Regions from separate parts of the Homo sapiens genome. Here region 1 is linked to region 2. The links come from fine-mapping of genetic effects on gene expression. A gene starts in region 2. The other region holds a variant in brackets. All regions are shown on one strand. Distances are from middle to middle.

The links. PIP is the estimated chance that this variant, and not a neighbour inherited with it, causes the effect. A credible set is the group of variants that fine-mapping cannot tell apart.
Region 1: its variant is the best candidate, but not a certain one, in a credible set for the expression of BICD2 in whole blood (INTERVAL, PIP 0.81).

What each region holds. Positions count from the first base shown.
Region 1 is chr9:92,732,306-92,737,673 of GRCh38, reverse strand. The region is part of intron 1 of BICD2 (BICD cargo adaptor 2); the gene reads left to right. Among named protein-coding and RNA genes, the nearest start is that of BICD2, 30 kb to the left of the region's middle. RefSeq lists an enhancer at 2,327-2,926. The variant G/A (reference allele first, on the strand shown) is at 2,620.
Region 2 is chr9:92,762,015-92,767,382 of GRCh38, reverse strand. BICD2 (BICD cargo adaptor 2) reads left to right here and starts at 2,550. Exons shown (of 7, transcript NM_001003800.2): 1 at 2,550-2,878. The coding sequence starts at 2,639. RefSeq lists silencers at 958-1,007, 1,860-2,599 and an enhancer at 4,423-4,582.

The DNA.
Region 1 (5,368 bases), 30 kb after region 2:
CGTCAGGAAAGAATGAAAACCGCAAAGGTAACTGTAACCTGTTGTTGGTCGTAATCTTTTACTCTTCCTTCATCGTCCAGCTTCTGTTTCTGGATCTCAGCCTCTATTTGGGGTGATGAGGGCCTAAGCGTCTGGTATGGGCTCATTCTAAAGCCACCCAGTCTCCCACGCGCTGCCCCACACTGGGGTTGTCAGGATCTCAGCATGTTAACACTGGTCCATTGACAATAGCCTCAACCACATCCTGAGTCAGAGATATGCTGACTCTGGAGGAGTTGCCTCCTTCTTGGGCATCCGAAAGGCAGTGGGATGCCTGGAGAGGAGAACAAGGAGTAACTCCCTGAACCTGTATTTTAAAGCTCCTATCGTCAGGGGGTGGGTGGAGTAGGAGGCCACATAGGCTCTGGTAAGTGAATTATGTTAACTGACTAAATCCCCATAGCACTAAGCTCAGATTGGTGACATTATTAACCCAGGTTTCACATGAGGAAATCGAGGCACATTGTGATTGGCGCCCACCACAGTCACATAGCCCTGCCCCTGCAGCTTATTTCAGAGGTGCTAGCAGGGGATGTTGGCTGTGCTTCCCTGAGATGGGGGTGGTGGGCACAGATGGGCCCGTGCTCACAGGTACCCCTGGGACCTGGCCTGCCTTCTCTATCTCCTAGGGGTTTGGGTGGGGTGGGGCACTGGGCTCATCTGTTGGACAGGATCCTTACTGCCCTGTTTTCCATCCTGAGGCCTATTCTGCCAGCCTTCTGTCTCCAGCCCTGCACCATCCCACGCTACAGCCAGACTGTGCACCCTTGGCAAGCATTGAGCTCTGTTGTGCCTCAGTTTCTCTGTGTGTGTGTGTAAAGGGGGAACATGTTCAGGGCTCCGGTCATGGAGCTGCTAAAACAATCTAACACACAGGGTGTGCTCAGTTCGAGGCAGCTGAAGATATTACTGGAAAGTGGTGCTGATCCAGATCCCAAGAGAGGGTTCTTGAATCTCACGCAAGAAAGAATTCAAGGCGAGTCCATAGAGTAAAGCGAAAGCAAGTTTATTAAGAAAGTAAAGGAATAAAGAATTGCTACTCCATAGGCAGAACAGTGACTTGAGCTGCTGGCTTAAGGATACTTATAGTTATTTCTTGATTATATGCTAAACAAGGGATGGATTATTCACAAGTTTTCTGGGAAAGGGGTGTACAGTTCCCAGAGCTGAGGGTCCCTCCCATTTTTTAGACCATGTAGGTAACTTCCAGACATTACACAGTGGGTACCTCGGGCTGTGGCATCTGTAAACTGGGGCCATCACAGGGCCATGGCATCTGTAAACTGTCATGGTCCTGATGGGAGTGTCTTTTAACATGCTAATGTATTATAATTAGCATATAATGAGCAGTGAGGACAACCGGAGATCACTCTCCTTGCCATCTTGGTTTTGTTGGGTTTTGGTGGGTTTGTAGTAATTACTGCAACCTGTTTTATCAGCAGTTAGTGTTTTATCAGTAATTACTGCAGCCTGTTTTATGTCTTTATGACCTGTATCTTGTGCCAACCTCCTATCACATCCTGTGACTAAGAATGCCTGTCTTCCTGGAATGTAGCCCAGTAGATCTCAGCCTCATTTTACCCAGTCCCTATTCAAGATGGAGTTGTTCTGGTTCAAACGCCTCTGACAGAGTCACATGATCAGTTCCACAGCTAATGGGTGCTGCTGTCCTTTAAGGATGGAGTCTGGATGTGGGCAGTTCACCTGAGCCCTTACGGTGAATGAAGAGGGGCCACCCAGAGCCTGCACTGCCCTGACAGGGACCGGCAGCCTCTTGTCCCCATGGGACTCTTAGAATGAGACTTAGGGCCTGAGTGAGCAAGGTCCCAGTGACTCCAGACCCAGTGTGCTGTGTGCCCGTGAACAGCAGGCCATTACTGTTTCTGCCATGCTCGTGGATGAGGACAGGGAGATAACAGAGATGAGGCACTCGCAGAGGTCAGGTGCTGTTTGCTTCACAGGCCCCCAGGCCTGCCCCTCCCTGCCCCGACTTGCCCTCAACTCCCCATTTCGTCCTCTGCTTGACAAAGCCCTGGGGTCTGGTTGCAGCTGCCCTTCCTCCCCAAGCCCTCTCCATTGTCTTCAAACTCCCCACTGACCTCAGGGTGGCTCCTAATGCTTCACAGAGAGTCCCTGGGACCTCCTGCCCCCATGTCATTGCTCGTGCTATTCCCTCAGATGAGGCTGGCCTTCCCACCCCATGTGGTTTTTGAAATCCCTTCCCTGAGCCCCTGTGATTTCTCCCTCCTGGCCAGAGCTTACCCCGCCCATCCCCACTTTTGATAGACCCAGCGTCTGTCCTGCAGCCTGTCCCGAGGCCATGCCACTGTGCAGGACCTGGCCTCCCTAATGGTGTCTGGTCCTGGCTCCCCTTAGGCACAGATGATTGTGCTATAGTCACATGGGTGTGGACAAACCTGAAGACAGCATTCTTGGCGGTCATGTGTTGGCCAAAAGCAAGGATTCTCCCCAAGGCGCCTGGCTGGTGGTGACCTCACACCCAGGCTCACCCAGTGTGTTAGATCCTGCTGGGCCTAGGCAGCTTCAGAGCAGTGGGTAGAGAGTGAGCCGGGAGCTTGT[G/A]TCAAGCACAGTGTTCGCCCATAGCCAGGGCAGCCCCTTGGGGGTTATCACCAAGGTGCTGCTTCCTCCTCAAAGCCCAGATGAGCCTAGTCTTATGGGCCAGGAGGGTAGGAACTTGGGCCTTCCACCTGTGTGTCCCTTTTGTTCCCCAGAGCAGCTGGAGAAGTTGTGGGCACGGGTGGGATGGAGGGCACATCTGGGATCCCCTTCCCAGACTGGATCCTGATGGTAGGTTGGGCAGAGAGCCCTCCTGTGGGTGGGCAGGGGATCATACCCTGCAGGGCACCAGCCTAGGAGGCCCACAGTGAGGCAGGGGAAGGAAGCTGCAAGGACAAGCCCACGGCTGGCGACCCCTTAATCAGATGGTGAACTCCAGTGCTCTTCTTAGTGCTTAATTGCACTCCTGGACCAGTGCTTCCTCCTGAGGAGACAAGATGGGGCAAACAGCCTGTGGGAGGGGGAGGAGGGAGTAACTCCAGCTGTCCTGGGTTGGGGGTGGGGGAGGTGGATTTTGTCTTCTCTCTTTTTTTTTTTTTTTTTTGAGACAGGGTCTAGCTCTATCACCCAGGCTGGAGTACAGTGGTGCGATCATGACTCACTGGAACCTCCGCTTCCCAGGTTCAAAGGATTCTTGTGCATCAGCCTCCCAAGTAGCTTGGGAATTACAGGTGCATGCCACCACACCTGGCTAATTTTTGTATTTTTAGTAGAGACGGGTTTTCACCATGTTGGCCAGGATGGTCTCGAACTCCTGGCCTCAAGTGATCTGCTTGCCTTGGCCTCCCACATTGCTGGGATTACAGGCATGAGCCACTGTGCCCAGCTGCCAACTATGCTAACTTCTAACAGCATAGATTAACTTCACTTATTCATGGAAGTTTATATATAAACAGAATCGCACAACATATACTCTTTTGTGTGTGGCTTTTTTCACTCAACATTGTTAGATTCATCTCTGTTATCTGTATAGCAGTAGTTTATTCATTTTTCATTTCTATATAGTATTATGTAAATAGTTACATAGTCACTGTTTATCTTTCTCCTGATGACAGATACTTGGGAACTCTGGTTTGAGCTTTTTTTTTTTTAAGACGGAGTCTTGCTCTGTTGCCCAGGCTGGAGTGCAGTGGCACGATCTCAGCTCACTGCAAGCTCCGCCTCCCGGGTTCACGCCATTCTCCTGCCTCAGCCTCCCCAGTAGCTGGGACTACGGGCGCCCGCCGCCACGCCTGGCTAATTTTTTGTATTTTTAGTAGAGACGGGGTTTCACTGTGTTAGCCAGGATGGTCTCGATCTCCTGACCTCGTGATCTGCCCGCCTCGGCCTCCCGAAGTGCTGGGATTACAAGCATGAGCCACCGCACCCAGCCTATCTTCTGAAAGTTTTATAGTTTTAGTTCTTATATTTAGGTATTTGATTCATTTTGAGTTAATTTTTGTGTATAATGTGAGGTAGGGGTTCAGCTTCATTATTTTGCATATATGTATCTACTTGCCCCAGCATCATTTGTTGAAAAACTTTTTTTTTTTTCCTCTGTCGTCCAGGTTGGAATACAGTGGCGTGATCTCGGTTCACTGCAACCTCTGCCTCCTGGGTTCAAACCATTCTCCTGCCTCAGCCTCCCAAGAAGCTGGGATTACAGGCACCCGCCACCACGCCCAGCTAATTTTTTTTTATTTTTAGTAGAGACGAGGTTTCACTATGTTGGCCAGGCTGGTCTCGAACTCCTGACCTCGTGATCTGCCCGCCTCGACCTTCCAAAGTGCTGGGATTACAAGCATGAGCCACCGTGCCTGGCCGAAAAACTATTCTTTGACATCAAATTATTTTTGTACCCTTGCCAAAAATCAATTGACCATATATATGAGGTTTTATTTCTGGACTCTATTCTATCCCGTTGGTCTCTGTATCTATCTTTACACTAGTACCACATTGTTTTGATCACTGTAGCTTTGTATTAAGTTTTGAAATTGTGAGTTCTCTCACGTTGTTATTCCCTTTCAATATTGTTTTAGCTCTTCTAGGCCCTTTGCAATTCCATATGAATTTGAAAATCACCTTTTCCATTTCTGCTAAAAAGGCTTTGGAATTTTGGTAGGGATTGCATTGAATTTCAAGTTAATTATCTTTTAAAGAGATTTAAATAAGAAAAATAAGTACTTTATATTTGCCTATTTAATTATCATTTCTTCCATGTAGATAAAGATTTCCATATGGTATTATTTTTCTTCTGCCTGAAGGATTTTATTTAGCATATCTTTAAATACCAATGCATATCTGCTGTTGATAAATTCTTTCAGCTTTTGTATCTCTAAAGTATTTCACCTCTATTTGTGAACAGTTTTCAGTGAGTATAGCATTCTAGTTAAGTTTTTTTGTTTTGTTGTTTAAAAGATGTTGTTCCACTATCTCCTGGCTTGTTAGAGAAATCAGCTGTCATTTATCTTTGCTCCTCTTGAGTCATGTATCCTTTTTCTTCTGGCTGATTTAAATATTTTTATTATATAATTGGTTTTAAACAATTTTATATTATGCCTTGGTGTAGTTTGCTTCATATTTCTTGTGCTTGGTGTTGACAAGCTGCTGATATCTGTGGGTTTATAATTTTCATCAAATTTGGAAAATTTTCAGCTATGATTTATTTCTTCAATTACTTTTTCTATTTTCCCCTTTTTCTCCTTTGGGTACTCCAATTACTCCTTACATAAGGCTTCTTGAAATTGTGTCATACTTCATACTTCACCAATGC
Region 2 (5,368 bases):
TCTTCCTATTCCTACTACAACTGAACTCCTTAAAATTAGTTAATTTCACAAGCCAATCTATGACACATTCTCCTCAGACAAACAAAACACTAAAAAGAATCAGGGCTCCTTGGGGAAATGACTGATTTCAGGTCTGGGACATGGAGAGCACAAGATGATCTTGGAACAATTTGCATCAGACATCAAGGAAGTAATAACAATAATAACAAATTACGATGTTTTGAAGACATGGAGCCAGCTTGGAGGAGCTCCCACGGGCCAAATCTGCTACCATTTGAGCATCAAAGCAAGTAAGGAAAGTAATGGATTGTAACCCACGGAGTAAAATAAGAATCCATGGATCCATACTGCTAATGAATGAGAGAGAAGGGAATAGATGAGAAGGTATAGGTGCCTCACAGTACAAAGGCAACTCATAAATGGAGAAGGACTAATGGAAATAGAAAAGCAGCCAGTATGGCTGGTCGCGGTCGCTCACGCCTGTAATCTTAACACTTTGGGAGGCCGAGGCAGGCAGATCACGAGGTCAAGAGATCGAGACCATCCTGGCCAACATGGTGAAACCCACTCTCTACTAAAAAAAAAAAAAAAAAAAAAAAAATTAGCTGGGCATGGTGGCATGCGCCTGTAGTCCCAGCTACTCGGGAGGCTGAGGCAGAATCACTTGAACCCGGGAAGCAGAGGTTGCAGTGAGCCGAAATTGCATCTCTGCCCTCCAGCCTGGGGACAGAGCGAGACTCTGTCTCAAAAAAAAAAAAAAAAAAAAAAAAAAAAAAGCAGACAGTATGGTAATAATTATTTCAGGCAAGAAGTAGTCATGAATGCCAAAACCAGTGGGTCAAGGTTTGAGGAGTCATAGGCTATATCTATGGTTGCAAAGTCTTCACTCATGACACTAATTACCAAAGAAAAACCCAGCATCAATCAGAGAAATGCAAATCGACATCACATACCTCCCGGCTGGTGCTCTGAAAACTCAGCAACACCTCAGTGACAGTCCTGCCAGAAACGCATCACCTCATCACCCCATGAGCATATACCAGTGTGCACTGCACTCCTCAGAAAGGTCAATCAAAGGAGACTCAGGAAACCTGACGACTGAATGCAACTGGATCCTGGACCACAAAAACAATACTGAAACTCTCCAGTATGGTGTTGGGCCCTCGTGCAATTAGAGTGTGGACTGTGCATTAGATAGTGTCAGTACCCTGTGTGCTGTGATTTCTGCTGTCATGGCTTCTTTCTAATTTGGTCTTGAGGGAGAGTGACCATAAGCCAAGATAGCCACTCTCTAGGAGAACCGAATGGGTGTGGGGTTCAGGTGAGATACAATGAGAAAGTAAAATTAAAAGGTACAAAACAGAAGGAATTTATTATTCTTAGGTTCCGGAGAGGTTAGGGATGCCTAAGAGAGGCGGACAAGCAGATGGAGAGGGGCAGTGAGAGACGGTGGGAAGGAAGGGACTATGGCTGTGCTAGGGTCCATGGAAATCATCCTTTAGGATTTCCCTTGGGGCCTGTGGACTGGCTAAAGAAAATACGAGGGAAGGGTGAACTCATCTGCACTGATACTGGCCATTAGGTGCTATGGCGGTCAGCGGCTGTGGGGTGTGTTGCGCTTTAGGTCAATGAGATAAAGAATAAACGAGTTATCTCACACACCACCATATACGGAGAAGTGTTACCTACGCCAAGGCGAAGGGTACGACTGGCTTTCAAACAACTTAAGTCAGGCCTAAAAATAGATGCGGAGACAACAATTATATTTACCACGTTTATGACCCTGTATTAATGGAAATGTCTTTATTCCCAAGAAATAGACCTTGAAGGACTGAGGGGCGGTGCTGAGGTTCCCGCTGGCCCCTGGGCGCCCCCTGCTGGCCCGTCCTCCTCCCGCCCCCAGACGTCTGCACAGAGCATGCGTCACACCGTCCACGGGTTTCCAGCAGCAGCCGTTCACCCGCGCTCTCGGATGCGCTTCTAGCTCGTGGCCTCCCGGGCTCTGTCCGCGTTGTTCGTCCCACGGTCGGGAGCCCAGTCCTGCCGCCCCGCACCCGCCTCCCCCTGGGGGTTCTCCCGGCAGCCGTCTTGCCACCCCGCGTGGCCGCCGGCTGCCAGAGGCACAGGGGAGCGCGAGGCCCGGCGACCGAGCAGTGTCCCCGGCTCTGAGTGTGGGGAAGGCCGCGGGGCCGCGCCCACTCGACCGCCGTCCAGGGGACTGCAAGGCGCCGGTACATCCGGCTCGACGCTGGCGGCGCAGGCCAATCACGGACGGGGACGGGTGGGCGCGGGGCTGGACGGGTTTTGTAGTCGGTGCGCTAGCGGGACTACTGTCCCCACAGCCCCCTGGGCCACATTGGCGTCAGTGGCTGCGCCCGAGGGCCCGCCCCTCACAGAGCATGGGCCAATCATAGCCGGGGGCCGGGCGGGCGCCGGGCATGATGGACCTTGTGGTCGGAGCGCAGGCAGGACTCCAGCCCCCAGCGGGCCCCGCGCGCCGGAGGGGAGGAGCCGTGCGGCGGCGCGGGCGGGCGGGCGGCCGTCGGGGCAGGGCGGCGGCGGCGGCGGCAGCGGCGGCGGCTGAGGAGGGCCCGGCCTGCGAGAGCCTCAGTGGGAGCCGGCTCAGCCCTCGGCCACCATGTCGGCGCCGTCGGAGGAGGAGGAGTACGCGCGGCTGGTGATGGAGGCGCAGCCGGAGTGGCTGCGCGCCGAGGTGAAGCGGCTGTCCCACGAGCTGGCCGAGACCACGCGTGAGAAGATCCAGGCGGCCGAGTACGGGCTGGCGGTGCTCGAGGAGAAGCACCAGCTCAAGCTGCAGTTCGAGGAGCTCGAGGTGGACTATGAGGCTATCCGCAGCGAGATGGAGCAGCTCAAGGAGGTGAGCCGAGCCGCCCTGCCCTGCGACCCCCGCCCGGCGCCGGGGCCTGTGGGCGTCGTCCCTGGCACCAGGGCGGCCAAGGTCAGCTTGCCAAGCGGGGGCCGGCAGGGGTGGGCCGCCGGGGCGGAGGGGGCACGGGCAGTATGTGGGAGTGGGCCCGGCCTTGGCTAGCAGGCCGGTGCCGCGGCCGTTGCAGACGCCGCTAATGCAGGGGTCCGGGCGCCTTGTCGCCTCCTGCAGCTGCCCGCCTGCTTCTGTGCGGACCTGGGCGGCCCCGGCGGGGCGGGGCTTCGTAAGGGCTGATGCTTTGCGGTGGTCGCTGTTCCGGGTGTGTCTGAGTGTGGGGTGGGGTTGGGAGGGCAGTGGCTGAGCCGGGAGCTGAGGCCACGGATGCTGGTGACCCGCTGGGAGAGGCCGAGGGTGGGCCTGGGTCTGGGTGGCTGCGGCTCTGTCACCTTCAGAGAAAGCACTTCCCCTCTCTGGGCGCAGCTACTTTCGGAGCGTTTCTGCTTCTTTCATGAGTGCCTCCGAGGTGGGGAAAGGTCGTGGACAGCGGCCTAAGTGAGTAGGGGCTCGGGGTTGCACGTGGAGGTTGCCCCTGGCATGGGTCCCCCAGTACCCTTGCCCCAGGCCCAGCGCTGTGTCCTCATGGCCGGGATTGCGCTCCCACCAGCTAGCATGACTTCCCTGGCCCACTTCCTGTCCAGCCCCGCTTCTCGGGCCCTTCCCCTCGCTGTGGCTTGCTGTGTTCCTCTTGGACGGAGACCTCAGTGGTCTGTGTCATTCCCACTGGGGGGAGAGTAGGTTAGACCACCAGGCTGGTCGAGGGTCTCCAGGCGGCAGGGCAGCGGGAGTCTTGGACAGTCCTTCCCCAGCTTCTCTTCTCCCGTTCCCTGACTCCATAGCGTTGTTTGCAGGAATTGCTTTCTGGGAGGATACACCAGGGTTTGGATCCAGGCTGTGCCCCTTGCTAGTGATGTGGCTTTGGGTAGAGGCCCTCCGTGAGTCTTAGTTTCCCCCTCTGCAAAATGGGAGTGCAGTACTGCGTGCCCAGAAAGGATTGTTGTGAGGGTCATGTATTTGGAAAGGACTGGTGTGCGGTCAGGAGTATAGCTTGGTGGTGTGCTCCCTTCCCCCACTTGAGTGTGTCCTGGTGAGCCCTTGGCTCTTGGTTTCCAGGCTTATCACCTGGCACCTCTGCTCCCAGTCAGCCCAGACAGGTGCCTAAATCATTTGCAGCCTTCCTTGCCTCCCCCGTGTCTGAGGAGACCCGTCTGTGGAGAGCAGAGAATGAATCCAAGCAGATGCTTGGATGTCTGGGCAGAGCAGGTGCTCAGTTAGTACCAGTCAATGGCTGACCCTGGGCCAGCAGGAGCTGGGTCCTCCCCCATCGCCCTCAGGACTCGATTCTGTTGTCTGTCAGCAGGTATTGGCACCTTCTGCAATGCATGCTCCAGTGGCGCTGGAGCTACAAGAGGGGTGAGATGCAGCTGCTCTTGCAAGAGTCCCCATCTTAGGGTGGGGCGTGTGATAGGGAGGCAGGGGGCTCTGAGAATATGGAGTGGGAGTGGACTCGGCCAGTTTCTGGTCTCCTGTAGCGGGGCTCACCCTCTCCAGCAGGCAGCACTATCTGTTAGGGCGCTTTTCCCTCTGCACACAGTGAAGCAGCCCTCTTCCTCCTACCAAGTGCATCGTGAGCCGCTCCTGGGCAGCCTCTACAGTCCCTGTCTCTGTCCACAGCTTGGGTTTGGCAGTGTCCTCTGTGAGAAGGAATTGTCGCTGACTTAACTTGTCCCCGCTTTGGTGCCCTTCATTTGTCAGGTCTTTGCTATTCTGACACAAACGTTTTGGCACAGTGAAGAATCTTGGCATTTTCGTGGCATGTATCTGGAGGGTGAGTCCCTAGCAGAATCAGGAAGAGGGTATACCTGTTTCTGTGGGTACTCTTTAGGCGTCTGCTTGCTTGTTTTTTGTCACCACCTGGCTTCCATGTACTGGCCACATGGCCTTGGACAAATTACTGCTCTGTTCTGAATCTAGTTCTCCTTTGTAAGGTGGGATAAGAATGTTTCTGCTCGGTCTCTAGCAGAGTCTAGAGGAATGTGCATCAGCGTTTCAGTTTCAGTAGATGTTGCCAGAAAGTTTGTACCAGTTCACCCCCCATCAACAGCATGCGTGTTCCTCACACCCATGCCAACACAGGCTCTTGCTAACCTATTTAATTATGGCCAGTATTATAGTTGAAAATATTAACTCTTCATTTAAAAAAAACCACAAGATTTAAGGAGTCAATAATTGTGGGGTTTTTTTTCTCCTGTAGAGCGGTGTACCGCCTTAATTCTTTAGAAAACTTTATTTCTTGAACTAAAGTGCATTTAGTTACTAATAAATTGTGCTCCAAATGGAGTTGCTTGTACTTCTGCCCTGCATTTGTAGATAATAGGATCGTTGAGGGAAGGACGCTGGCCTGCTGGTCCCAGTGTGTGGGTT